Linked DNA regions of Homo sapiens. The protein of the gene in region 1 purifies or fractionates together with the protein of each later gene. This does not show direct contact. Each region holds a gene or a part of one and is shown in the gene's direction. Other genes may lie near its edges. The genes, in order: SPATA19 and MFF.

Region 1 (4,375 bases):
ATCTGTTCATGTTTTGATTTCTGAATCACATTAATATTTTAAATATTCAAAAATAAAATTACATCAATAAGGATGAAAACATAAATTTTAGGGGATAGCTGTAGAAACAGAGATGTTGACAGGTAATTTCATCTGCTATTTTACAATTTCCAGTCTTCCTTGGAATTAGGTAGGGGCCATAGGACTAGTTCTAGATCAAAAGCTCTAAGTAGGAGCCTCTGAGCTGAAAGGTGGAACACTGACCTGATTCCTCTCTGTGCTCTCTTCCCTGCTTTGGCAGTCATGGAGGTCGTGTCCTCTGAATGTGGACCTGTGAGTCTCCACATGGCACACAATTGCTCTGAAATTACCCAACTTGCACGAGAGCTTTTGAGAGTGAGAAATAAACATTTTGATTTGGAGGTTGGTTTGTTGCCTCAGTCCTCAGCAGAGCCTAGCCGATTCTGACTATGTCAGGGATGATATAAAATTGAGGCGAATTGTTGAGAGGGAAGACGTGTAGTGGCTGTATCAGGGGAATTGGAGAAAGTGATAAAAGGTTTTCTATAATCCTGAGAAGAATAAACGTGGGAAAATTTTTGGAATATTAGAGTTAGAAGAAAGCTAGGGACACAACTCTATCCCTTTCAGTATAAGACAAAGAAACTCAGACCAGAGGGACTAATGATTAGGTCAAGAGCACATGACAAGTTGTTGCGGGACAGGTTGTTACTGGTGGAGGGTGTTCAGGTTCTTGGCGTCTTAAACAAAGAAATGGACAAAACACACAAACGAAGGAAAGAATGAAGTAACAAAGGCAGAGATTTAACGAAAATAAAAGTACACTCCACAGGATGGGAGCAGACTGGTTACAGAATTTTCTGGGGTTTAAATACCCTCTAGGGGTTTCCCATTGGTTACTTGGTATATACCCTATGTAAATGAAGTAGTGGCTCATGATCAGTCTGATTGGTTGCGGAAAGTGACCAATCAGAGGCTGAAGTGAAGTTATAAAGTTATATCTCTATGCAAATGAAGACCTGGCCCACAACCAGCCTGATTGTGGGAGGGGAGCAATCAGAGATACTTTCAGTTTTTCATCTGCCATGCAGAAAAGGAGAGGGTTGCAAAGGGCGTAGCCTCTGGTCTTTTTGTTACTTGGGCACGGAAAGTTGGGGTTTTCCTTTTGATTTAGTTCTAGGAAGTCAGTGTAAATCGGCCTTAGGTTTCCTGGCTCCAGACCCCATCCTCCTGCCTGGAGGTGAGCTCCCAAATTAGTGCTTTCCCAAGAAAAGAATTCAAGGGTCAGCCAATGGTGTTAGACAGCAATCTTTTATTCAATGGTTCTGCTCCTTGAAGCAGGGTAACTCATAGGAGTGCACCCAGAGCCTGAAATGCAGGGGCTCTTGGCAACGGCATTTATACTCACATACATCATTTTCAAAGGGAGGCCATTGTCACATCACCATGGGTCAGCCAATCAGGTGGACACCTCCCTTCAATGACCTTCCTGTCCCATAGGAGTTCTCAGGCAGCTTCAATGGAAGGAGGGAGCCAAGAAGGGGGCCTGGTATACATTCAAAGATGATAATTACGACATGGATTGTGTATATTCTTGCTCGGAAAGGTGTAGGGCTTCCCTTCCTACCAATAACCAGTTCGGTAAGCAGCTTGGTGGTAGTCACATGGAATAATTTTTCATATATCTTCTCCCCCTGTGGGACCCTGCTGCACTTCATAGAGATCTTACAAATAAATTTGAGTAACAGTTGCGGGGGCTGGGTGGGAAGAGCTGAATTTCTAGGTTTTCTGAGGTCACCAACTTGCCAATTTGTTCCAGGACATTGACGTTGTGGAAAGTGAGGCTGTGTCTGTACTACATCATTGGTTGAAAAAAGTGAGTAAGATTTCTTTATGACTCAGGATATCCAAAATGCTAGAGAAGTGGTCTCAGTGGGTGTGGGGATCTGGACTTCCTTCTTCATGGAACTGGAACTCAAGTTCATTGCCAGACACCCTTCCTAGATTTGAGTCTAATTTCTTCACATGTGCTGGAGGACACTGTGGCTTGTGTCCTGGCAGGAAATGTGTTAGCACCACCACTAACGCCGTCCTGCTTCTCAAGCATCCTGGCTTAAGGGTTTCAGCTGCATCCTTCCCAGCTCAAGGGTGTCTCAGGAACACCTTGGGATAGGGCCAGGGACTTAGGGAGTTCTGAGGACTTTACAGGGAAGTAGCTTATTGTGGGAACAGTGAGGTAAGGAGTGTATGTGTGTGAATATGTGGTGTGTGAGTTGTGATGGAGAATGAATAAAAGGAAAGGAAGAGGAGAAGAAGACCCAGGGTTGGATGCAGAGTGACATTTTCAGAGGGAATTTCTCACCTTTCAGACAGAAGAAGAGGCTTCTCGGGGCATAAAGGAAAAGCTGTCCATCAACCACCCTTCCCAGGGTGTAAGGGAGAAGATGTCCACTGACTCCCCTCCCACCCATGGCCAGGACATCCACGTGACCAGAGATGTGGTAAATGAGAGTTTGAGACCTTGCCTGGGAGTAGCGGTGAGGGAGAGGGGAGAGGTGGGAGGTGCACCGTAAATGATTCTGGGCAAGGGTGAGGTGCTCGTCTGGGCTCTGTGCCAGCCCAGTTGGGGGCCACACTGGGCAGGAATCACATGGACCCTCTGGATTTCCCAGGTGAAGCACCACCTCTCTAAGTCTGATTTGTTGGCAAACCAGAGCCAAGAGGTCCTAGAGGAGAGAACACGAATCCAGTTCATAAGATGGAGGTAAGGTGTCCCACTTGCCCTGGGCGAAGGAAGGGGAGGGAGAGATGCGCAAGCCCCTCTCTTCACGAACCCTCAGATGCTCTTCTCTAGAGATGTCGTCTTTGGCTGACAAATTCCTCAGCCTTGCTTTGGGGTCTTAAGGGAATATCCTTGCTATCTTGAAAGCCCAGCTCATTTCTACATTTTTAAATGACTTGAGGGGTTGGAAAACTGGGCTTGCACTCCATTTCTTAAATGCTTCTGAATACATTTCAGATTTCTGTTATTTTTGCACTTGAGTTGCTCAGAAGTGGCTGCACTTTAAAGAGCTAAAAGAAAATAAGCTCTTAAAATGCAAAAGCCAAAGTTTTCATCTGCAACTGAGGTGTGGGGAGGCTTCCCAGCGCCCGAGGCTAGAATTCTGCACTCGGTTATGGTGGCTTCGCCAGCGTCCCGGGTGCCTGCCAGCTCACAGCCGTCCCCACTGCCTCTCGTGGCTCTGCAGATGCTGAGCCCCGAGGCCCAGGGAGCTGGCCTGAAGCCATCATGCTTCAGACAGAGGCTTTCCTATTTCCTTTCCTGCACCTGTGTTCACTGGGGGTCTCTGGAGCACATCAGCCACCCCTTCCCAGGAGAGGGACTGAGGGCTTAGACTGGTCCTACGGGAACCTGAAGGAGACTTCTCCCCTTCCTCCTCTCTTCCTCCTTTCCCTGCCGCATCATCGATGTTGATCTGTTGTATCAAGGAGGCTCCATTTCTCAAGAAACGGTTTCCATGTGCTTACCCCTTCTAGTGGCATCTGCCTTTTAGGAAGACTCAAATGCACAGTAATTTCATAACCAAAAGGAATAACATGGTGGGATCTGAGAGCTCCCTGGGAAAGAGTTTTTTTGGATGGGAAGCCTTCTGAGGCCCCTAAAATCATAAATGTTGTTGATTATAATCCAGGCTTTTCTGTGCCTGACGTGGTTGTGCTATGGAATTGCGGACATTGTGCTCCTTGGTTTGGATAACACACACATCATCTTCCAATATTTTAAAAATCTCGTCTGTATAAAAAAACTAGTTTTAAGCTTTTCAGACAGGCTACAGGAATCAGTCAATTATTTACATATAATTTTTCCACTCTGGATTTTCTACAAAGATTTTAAACCAAAAGCCTCCGCCTATCTCCCCCCACAACCCACTGGTTTTGGTGTCCCCCTCTTATTTCAGTAAGTATATAGTCAGGAAATATATATATCCCTTTATGAAACAAAGCAAGGAGGCTCCCCAGGGGACCCCACAGCTTCCTCGCTGTAGGCTTTCCTAGAAGCATCTCTGAACCACAGTGGGTGTGGGGTGATGCAGGTCATCAAGAGCTGATGATAGGAGAGGAATTCAGAAGACTGAATTCAGAAGGGTGAATTCCACGGCTCACGAGACCACTGCTTGCTGCCTTTAGTAAGGGCACTCAGCTCTGTGTCCCTGGCTCTCCCCGGGACAGTCTGCTACCTGTTCAGCATTACTGGGGGCTCAAGGGTACCTGGTTAGTAAAAAAAAGCTTTGTGCTCATGAGTCAAGAAGGGGGAGAGACCAGCTCAAAAGTTCATGGTGTCAGGGCAAGAGTCATTGTTTGCAGGATCCCATCT
Region 2 (3,816 bases), on another chromosome or scaffold:
CACTTGAGGTCAGGAGTTCAAGACCAGCCTGGCCAACATGGTGAGACCCTGTCTCTACTGAAAATACAAAAATTAGCTGGGCATGGTGGTGTGGACGCCTGTAATCCCAGCTACTCTGGAGGGGGAGGCAGGAGAATCACTTGAACCCCGGGGTGGAGGTAGCAGTGAACCGAGATTGTGCCACTGTACTCCGGTCTGGGCAACAGAGCCAGACTCTGTCTCTCAAAAAAAAAAAAAAAAGGTACTGATACATGCCACAACATGGATGAACCTTGAAAACATGTAAAGTTTAAGAAGCCAGACAACAAAGGCCATATATTGCATTTTTCTACTTACATGAAATATCCAGAGTGGCCAAATGAATGAAGACAGGATACAGAGCAGTGGTTGTCAGGGGGTTAGAGGAGAGGGGACTTGAGAGTGACTGCTTAATCAGTATGGGGTTTCCTTTTGGGCTGATGAAAATATTCCGGAATTAGATAGTGGTAATGATTACACAACGTTGTGAGTGTACTAAATGCCGCTGAATTGTACACTTCAACATGGTTAAAATTGTGTATGTTATGTGTGTTTTAAAATAAAAAAGAAAATACCTCCAGACATTGCCAAATGTTCTCTACAGGGCAAGATCACCCCCTACTGAAAACCACTGACCTATCTCAAGAAAGGAGAAGGCTTATGAGGAAGCCTATAAAATTGTTGTCTGAAAGCCTGATTGATGCAAGGGATAAATTTGTAGAAAGCAGTTGTACTTGAGTTCTTAAACTGGCTTAAAGAATCCAGGTGAGCCCTTGAGGAGGGCTTAAAACATAACATAAATAATCCCTTAGCTCAAAGACAGTTTAAAAATGTGAGGCTTGGCTGGAAGAGAGGAAGTTGACAAACACTTTCAATATGCCTAATCTCCACCAATATTTGGAAATCAGCTCTAAGATAAGACCATTGCTTGGTGATTCTGTCTGCTGGGAACTAACAAAGCAACTGTTCAATAAACCATGTGATCTGGGCATGAAATACAAAATGCCCAAGTCATGACAGTTTTCAGTGTTCCTACAGTAGACTAGGCAGTGTGAATGAGGAGAAAGAAGCTGTAACACTGACATTACCAGCTCTTCTCAAAAAGGAATCCGAACTGGAGCCAGTGGGGAAGGATCTTCCAGAGAACAAGAAAGAAGAACTGTAAAGAAAGAGTTGGAAAATGCTGCCTGTAAGAAGATTTGACACAACCTTGAACAGTGTGACTAAGTCAAAGATGTGGACTCTGCCGTTAAATCCTATCAATCAAGCCGTGATATGCTTTGAAAAAATCAGCTACAATAAACCCTAAGAGCTTTGTGAGAAGGCCATTGAAGTTGGAAGAAAAAACAGACTGGTCTAAAGATAGAGAGTAAAAGCTTTTGCCCAAGTTGGCATCTCTTACTTCAAAGAGGAGAAATACGAGAATACTATTCATTTCTATAATAAATCTTTGGAAGAGCACTGAACCCCAGATATACACAAGAATCGTCAATAGTTAGGAATTAATCTGGAAAGAGCAAAATCAGTTGGCATATATAAAATCTGACCTGATTTTGGAGGAGAAGAGTAAAGGCATTGAGTGGTTTCAGAAATGGAACTATCTCCAAGCCATGCCAGCTTTATACAGAAGCCATCAAATGGCATCCTCCACAGGATGCCAAATTCTACAGCAGTTATATCCAAAGTGTACAGCCAGAGCTGGAGGAGTAGAAGAAATATCTAGCTAGATCCACCCTTAACACAGATTATACTTAGAAAGCAGCAGCCTTAGAATCTGAAGGATGACACAAAAGCCATGAATGTCTAGCAGAAGGCCCTAGACCTGTAATTCTACCGTAAAGAAGTAGCAGATGGTTATTGGTGCCCAGTTCAATTGATATGACAACGCTAAGGATGTGAAGCAAAAAACCATAGCTATATGACATATCCTAAAACAAATGCAGAAGGGCTCCCAGGGACTCAGTGAATATTTAAAAGGGTCCTGTGGAAGCTTAGAAAATCAAGAACTTCATGAATATGGGTCTGATCACACTTTGGTGATGGTTTCTTGAGCTCTTTTTCCTTCCTCATCACTTCTGGAAAGAGGAGCTGGGACTGCAATGAGCAGAATGGAGCAAAAGTCTGGAGAGAAGAGGAAAAGCTGAATTGTATATATGTTTACACATTCATGCATGGAAAATTCAGAGATGGACACTTGCGTTCTTTGTACAGCTACAGTTTTATGGCCCTCTTAGCACAAGCATGGTCTCGTCACTCCTGACAAATTGGGCTATGTGTCCTTCCCAAAACCCGCAGTCACTGGCTTAACTGTTCTCCCCATGATTCGTGATTTTAAATTTTGGACAATGCACATGTTGGGGAGGGAAGATATTTATCCCAACTGTTCAGTCTACATTGATAATTTGTACCTTTCCCCCTTCTGCATAAAAGTCCCACAGAAAATGGGGGTGAGTATAGAGGAAAAACACGAAGGCTCTGAGTAGATTCCTGAAGAAGAGGTGGGCTTTGAACAGATTGAGAGAATCAGCCATCAAAAAACCTAGAGGACATTTACTTGCCCAGGAATTTATGAACAATCAAATTTAACTTGGGGTGTAAGCATATTAAAGGAGAATTGTATGCAAGCATGCAAAGTGTCTAGTGCTACATGTTATATAACTATGTAGCACTAGACACTGTGACCCAACTTCCAGGAAGCTGCTTGAACTTAGGAAACTATTTCTCAGCCTCCGGGATGAATAAAACTAAGTGCATAACCACTGAAGGATGATTCTGAAAGACATTTTAAAATTCTGCATTGAGGCCAGGCACAGTGGCTCACATTTGTAATCCCAGCACTTTGGGAAGCCGAAGTGGGTGGATCTCTTGAGGTCAAGAGATCACCAAGCCTGGCCAACATGGTGAAACCCCATCTCTACCAAAAAATACAAAAATTAGCTGGTCATGGTGTGTACCTGTAATCTCAGCTACTCAGGAGGCTAAGGCATGAAAATCTCTTGAACCCGGGAGGCAGAGATTGCATAAGCCAAGATTGTGCCACTGTACTCCATCCTGGGCAACACAATGAGACCCTATCTGGAAAAAAAAAAAAATCTCAGATTGAAACAAAACAAACATCCAGGCCGGGCATGGTGGCTCACACCTGTAATCCCAGTACTTTGGGAGGCCAAGGTGGGTGGATTACTTGAGGTTAGGAGTTCAAGACCAGCCTGGCCAACATGGTGAAACCCTATCTCTACTAAAAATAACAAAAATTATCTGGGCGAGATGGCATGCACCTGTAATCCCAGCTACTCGGGAGGGTGAGGCATGAGAATTGCTTGAACCCAGGAGGTGTAGGTTGCAGTGAGCTGAAATAGCACCATTGCACTCCAGCCTGGGGGAACAGAGTGACACTCTGTCTCAAAAAAAAAAAAAAGAAAAGAAAAACATCCACCTGGGATTACAGGTGTGAGCCACCGTGCCCAACCAAAAACATCAATAAATATTGATTGATATTTTGAAAATCTTAATTTTCAAGTCCTTAATTCACACACTATTTGTTTTTTTACTATAAAGTTTAATTTTTTAAAAACCATAATGTCGGCCGGGCGCAGTGGCTCACGCCTGTAATCCCAGCACTTTGGGAGGCTGAGGCAGCCAAATCATGAGATTAGGAGTTCGAGACCAGCCTGGCCAACATGGTGAAACACCGTCTCCACTGAAAATACAAAAATGAGCAAGGTGTGGTGGCACACACCTGTAATCCCAGCTACTCAGGATGCCGAGGCAGGAGAATTGCTTGAACCCGGGAGGCAG

Evidence for each region.
Region 2: the proteins of SPATA19 (region 1) and MFF purify together in Homo sapiens (affinity purification with mass spectrometry; 2 studies listed by BioGRID and IntAct, with this or other methods). This does not show direct contact.

The regions. Positions count from the first base shown.
Region 1 is NC_000011.10:133,842,635-133,847,009, reverse strand, and holds the start of SPATA19 (spermatogenesis-associated protein 19, mitochondrial precursor), read left to right. Parts: upstream 1-1,496; 5' UTR 1,497-1,563; coding exon 1,564-1,641; intron 1,642-1,819; coding exon 1,820-1,876; intron 1,877-2,369; coding exon 2,370-2,501; intron 2,502-2,672; coding exon 2,673-2,764; intron 2,765-4,375.
Region 2 is NC_000002.12:227,334,948-227,338,763, forward strand, and holds part of MFF (mitochondrial fission factor), read left to right. Parts: intron 1-3,816. UniProt on the Homo sapiens protein: Plays a role in mitochondrial and peroxisomal fission. Promotes the recruitment and association of the fission mediator dynamin-related protein 1 (DNM1L) to the mitochondrial surface.